Linked DNA regions of Homo sapiens: region 1 is linked to region 2. Evidence: fine-mapped expression QTL. A gene starts in region 2. The other region holds a variant in brackets. All regions are shown on one strand. Distances are from middle to middle. Region 1 has its middle 38 kb from the start of CITED2. Region 2 holds the start of HECA (hdc homolog, cell cycle regulator).

Evidence for each region. PIP is the estimated chance that this variant, and not a neighbour inherited with it, causes the effect.
Region 1: its variant is fine-mapped to the expression of HECA in whole blood (GTEx, PIP above 0.99).

What each region holds. Positions count from the first base shown.
Region 1 is chr6:139,334,857-139,337,764 of GRCh38, forward strand. No RefSeq gene overlaps it. Among named protein-coding and RNA genes, the nearest start is that of CITED2, 38 kb to the right of the region's middle. The variant A/G (reference allele first, on the strand shown) is at 1,294.
Region 2 is chr6:139,133,922-139,136,829 of GRCh38, forward strand. HECA (hdc homolog, cell cycle regulator) reads left to right here and starts at 1,159. Exons shown (of 4, transcript NM_016217.3): 1 at 1,159-1,746. The coding sequence starts at 1,476. RefSeq lists enhancers at 951-1,245, 2,111-2,230 and silencers at 951-1,140, 1,251-1,330, 1,731-2,000.

The DNA.
Region 1 (2,908 bases), 200 kb after region 2:
TTTCTCTGGGCAATTTTCACCATTTCAGCATACCCAAGAGAGAAATGACGTATAATTTTGTTATGCTGAAGAATTTGGCAAGCCAGCTAATGGTCTTACTAAAAGTGAAGAAATCCCTTTGGTGACAGATGCAGGAAGTTATGTCTGAATCATTTGGAACCATTGTAGAGAAGCCTTTGTTCCAAAAGAGATGTGTGGGGATTTTCTTGGGAAGAAAAGGTGTCTGAATATTCTTAAACCTCGAACAGATTTATCAAACTTGCTGCTTCATTTAATCCTTTGCCAAATGGGCTCATCTTCCATCCAACAGACTTCTCCCTAGCCATCTTCATCTTTCAAAAAGTCACCCTTAAAACGCATCTTGTGTTTCTTTCACTGCTGTGATGATGAAATCTGTCTCAAAAGAAGCATGTCGGTGTTGACTTCATAATCTTAGAGGCTGTAACATACAGGGAAGGCTGTTACTTAGAAACATACTCTCAGAAAGGTTTTTTGGAAGTTTTTAGGGAGGGGGCGAAGAAGAACTAGGGACAGGTAGATGGTGAATAGAATAACCTGAAGCCATGAGTCAAGGTCAACAGCAACAATAAGTCAAAGCAAGATCACTGAACATTGGTGAAAATAAAAAGAAGTGGAATCAGACTACAGAGGAAAATGAGTAAATTTAGTATCCAGAACTACTCTTAATGGGAAGTCCTATTAGCTTGTCTCCCATCAGAGTTAGGTGAAGTAATAATCTCCAAAAGGTGGGGCTGTTACCTCTGCAGGCGTTTAGAACTGGTCTGAACAAATCACCTGCAAGCTTTTTTGTGGTGGAAGAATGCTGTAGAACGGAGCTGTGAAAGCAAGTATAATTTCTTTTCTGACTCCCTCTGACTTTCACTTAATCATGTACAGGCAGTTCAAAAATCCTGCTGCCTCTTTCTTGCCAATTTCAATACAAATTCTCTCTGGCCAGAAAACTGATCATTTGGTATATAACCTTTTTTTTTTTTTTTTGGTTGGTTCCTCAGTTTCTCCACAACATCACCTGACATTCTGCTACATAAATAGCTATAATTTTAAATAAAATGAGTCAAACGCTAGTGTCAGGCCTTTACAAAGGCTCTCTCACCCTTTAAGATCGCTATAATCCCTCTTTTACATAAAAGGCAATAATGTTCAGACTCTAAGCTAGTGAGTTGAAACGCAAACTCTGAACCATCTCATCAGAAAAAAAAAAGAGCATAGGTTTAGAGTCAAATGAACTCCTGTGTGAATTCTGGCTTAGCATGCCTATTTCTGTCCCAATCT[A/G]TTCTATAATCTCCTTTATCCTTGTAGTGGAATTATTTTAAATTCTATCTTGAGACCCTTGTCTGGGAGCTTATATGATTCATTCCATCATTGCCCAAATGAGATAGACCAGGAGGCTGGATCCTCCTCTTAGTAGGGGTGGATGCTTTTTTAGTGGCTGTAAATGGATCAGTCCATGACTTAATTGTGCATGAAATAGAGATTTTTAAAAATTTTCTATAACCAAATTTAATTTCTGTCATAAATGCTAAATTTCTACCTGGTAATGACAAATTTAATTCTTCTAATTCAGGATAAACCTAGCCAAATTAGGATTTTTAAGACATTGTTTCAGGGTAAAATCATTCAATTTAGGCTTCTTCCCCCAAATTTCAATTAGCCCAAGTGGCATCTAACTTTAGGGAGGTGTTACGAATTAGGTAACCCCAAGTTATTTGCATTTCTTCTTTTCCTGAGAGTGGAAGTAGCAAGGTATAAAGTGTTATAATAATGGCTAGTAATTTGCAAAGAGGTAAGATGATCTTACAGGAGTAAACCAGCTTGCTGGAAATGAGTATTTTCAGTTAAGGGCCAAAATTGTGTAGCACGAGCTCCCAGAAAGCCCCTGGAATTGTGCCAGCAGACACGGCCATGAATTTGGCAGTGGCTGCTGTAGCCGTGAGGCAAGGTAGGCCTTTGCCACAGGATCAAAAGACAGACTGTAATAAGCTATGGATTTTTGGTGCTTTCCTTGTAATTAAAGCTATTAGAGAATCAGAATTTTATTTAGAAGCTTCTTTATTCCAATCAAAAAAGATAGTACATTCAACATTAGGACTTTACTGTCCTAATGAAGAGAAACTTCATTTGCTCTAAGAACACTGTAAGATGGACAATTTTGGAAACATATGGAATTCTCCCAAAGTGGCCAAATCATCATCGGTGAACTAGTGCCAGTTTGTGAGATGTGTGCAAGCATTTGGATAATAATAAAGAAGCAAGTGTCTGGACTGGCAGAAGTGCACACTTGAACTGAGATTACCCCTGGAGAAATGATCATGGTCAGTTGAATGTGTTGGTTCTGCATTTTGTGTCTTGAGCCACTAACCAGTGGCTGGCCACCCTTGACAAGAGACTTGATAATTTGTGGCCCTCAGCAGATAGAATTTTTGGATATTCTGTCTTTCATATTAACTGTCAGTTGTAAACACAGAACAGAGGAAAAATGGACCTTGTACGTTTTTTTGTTGGTGACTTGAAGTAAATTTCATTTACTGGGGAACATAAGCTTGACAAAATTTTTATTAACAGCTTTATTGAGGCCAAATTGACATACAATAAAATGCACATAATTAAACTATAAACCTTGAAAAGCTTTGACATTTGTATACACCCAGCATAATAATCAAGATAATGAAAATATGCATCATAAGTTTCCTCATGTCCGTTGGTAATACCCCCTTCTTCTCCCTGCTCCCCATACCTCTGAGTCCCCAAGCAACCACTGATCTGTTTTCTAACACTGTAGATTAGTTGGTGTTCTAGAATTTTACATACATGGAATATAGTGTGCATTCTGAGAAAAAATATATTTTTTTTCGCTCAGCATAATTTTGAGATTCTTCCATGTTTTGTG
Region 2 (2,908 bases):
CACCTACATTGCCAACATAATTAGAGATGGAGGAGGAAAATAACAGGGTGGAACTTCTGACAGCTCTCCTGGGAAGGTCTCTGTGGAAGTGATGTATTTGAGCTGAGACCTGAAGGAAGGGAAGGAGTTGGCCGAAAAGGTAGAATAGAATTGCAGAAAGAGATCAAGGGGAGCTCTTCCCAGGGGTCCCCTGCCCTCATATTGCCTGTCTTCACTGGTGTCACCTAATCTCCTACTGCTCATAACCTGGCTACCTATCTTTCACTATCTTTCAGGACAACTCAGCCCTATGCATAGGGATGGGTTCCCCCCAAGCAGGGACTGCTTCAGAGTCCAGGCAACATCTAGTTACATCCCTGGATGATGGGTCTTGTTTGAGTGAATTGTTTTCACCACCAGACTGTGAAGGCTTCCCATTCAGGACCCTGGTGTTCATCCCCATTGTCTGGGAACTCTACCCTGTTTCTTTCTTTCTTTTCTTTTTTTTTTTTTTTTTTTGAGACAGAGTCTCGCTCTGTTGCTCAAGCTGGAGTGCAGTGGCGCGATCTCGGATCCCAGGTTCAAGTGATTCTCCTGCCTCAGCTTCCCGAGTTTCTGGGACTACAGGCGCACGCCACCACGCCCAGCTAATTTTTTTTTGTATTTTTAGTAGAGACAGGGTTTCACCACGTTGGCCAGGATGGTCTCGATCTCTTGACCTCGTGATACACCCGCCTCGGCCTCCCAAAGTGCTGGGATTACAGGCATAAGCCACCGCGCCCGGTCCCCTGTTTCTTTAATTACTGTTACTGAAAGGCATAGCCTTTGAATGAGTTATTAATCCAAAATCTTTTGTTTTCCATTCTTGCTCTAGTCACAGCTTATTTTTCCAGACCATACTGTTCTAAGCCTCAATTACATTAAGGCCAGGAGGCCACCGAAGAACTCCACATGCCACTGCACTGGCGGGTGGAGCAAGTCAAGCAGGGCAGCTCATGAACGCCCGGGAGTCCAGGAGGCCCGGGTGGGGACGCCTGGATGACGTCACTCGAGGTGGGCAGGCCCCGCGCGGGGCGTGACGTCACGCGGGCGGTCCCGTCAGCCGTGAGGTCACCTGGTGGGCGCGGCCAGGCCGAATCCCCAGTGTCGTCACGGGAGGGGGCGGGCCCAGAGCGTGTCAGTGCAGCCGAATCAAAACAAGCCGGAGACCCGCCTTTTCCCTCCGGCTCGGGAGCGTCTCGCTTGCGCCCCGGGCCCGCGGCGCCCGCGCGGCTGCGAGCCTCGGGTGGCCGCGTGCCGGCTCCAGGAAGCCGGAGAGGGCGCGGCGGCCAGGATGGCGCGGCACGGGCCGTGCGGCTAGACGGGAGCCGAGGGAACCGCCGGCTCGCGCCCTCCGTTCTTTCCCGGAGCCGGCTTCACGCAGGGCCGGGAACGGCCGTGCCTCTGGGATCCGCCTTCGCTGACGCCGGGCACCTACCTGGACGCGAGCGAGCGAGATGCCCAACCCCAAAAACAGCAAAGGCGGCCGCAAAAACAAGCGCGCCAACAGCAGCGGCGACGAGCAGGAAAATGGAGCCGGGGCCCTGGCAGCGGCGGGCGCGGCGGGAGCGGCGGCCGGGGGGGCCCTGGCGGCGGCGGCCGGTTGCGGGGCGGCGGCGGCGGGCGCGCCGGGCGCCGGAGGCGCGGCGGGCGCCGGAGGCGCGGGGACTGGCGCCGCGAACGCTGCGGCCGCCGCGGGGGCTGCGGCCGCGGGCGATGCCAAAAACGGTAAGACGGGGCTGGCGGGGCGAGCGCCAACTTCCTCCCCGACGGGGACGGCGCGGTGGCGGGGCCCTGGGTGGCGCGGGCGGTGCGTGGACAATGCGAGAGTCAGGAAGTGCTCACCCCGCCCCTCCGCCCCGCCGCGGCTGCCCCTTCGCGGTCCCCACGCCTGGCGGCGGGGACAGATCTGCGGCCCCTGCCCGGTGTCCGCGCGGGGGGCAGCCCGCGCCCCACACTCTGAGGGGCTCCCGGCTGCGGCAGCGCTGCCCTCGGGCCCAGCCTGCTGCCCGCGCTGGCACTGCCCCGCCGTGTGTGCCGGGCCGAAGGGAGGAAGGAAGGGAGGAAAGAGCCGCCCAAGTTGAGAAGAATGATCCGATTGAAAACTTAGGCACCGGTTAATTCTTCCCGGTGCTCCAAGGCCACCCGTAACCCCCGGAATGAAGGAGAGAGAGCCTCAATTCTTAGCACACCCAGGCTTGCTGCGTCGATCGCCACAGGTGAAGAGGCCTCGAGACATTTAGGGCCTCTGTGTTTGCTCTTTAATTTTTTGGCTTGCTTGAGGAAGGAAGAGAATCTGAACTTGACTTCCGTTCTCAGCCCGGAGTTAAAAAAAAAAAAAAAAAAAGAAAAGAAAGAAAAGAAAAATCATTCTCTATGTCATTGTGCTTAACATTTTCAGAAGGAAGCCTCATAATCTTAGGTAGTGCCTGAATGTTCCTTTTGAGGGGACACTTAGGAACTGGCCCAGATGTGACAGGATTTCTGTTCTCATTACAGAGCCATGGTTTTCGTTATAAGGTGCTGGGCAAACACTTACTTATTTGGACAGTTCTTTGAATTCCTCTAGTCAGGCACTTTTTCCAGGAAGACAACGTAGGTATTTTAATGAAGGGAGATTTGAATTGTTATATCTGGCTTTTAATTTATAGCGTCAGCTTTTGAAGCCATTCTTTATGTAGATCAGGCACTTTTTTGTTTTGTTTTTTTTTTTTTAGACGGAGTTTGCAATTTCGCCCAGGCTGGAGCGTAGTGGCGCAATCTCGGCTCACTGCAACCACCGTCTTCCGGTCTGAAGCGATTCTCCTGCCTCAGCCTCCCGAGTAGCTGGGATTACAGGCGCCCGCCACCACGCCCGGCTAATTTTTGTTATTTTTAGTAGAGACAGGGT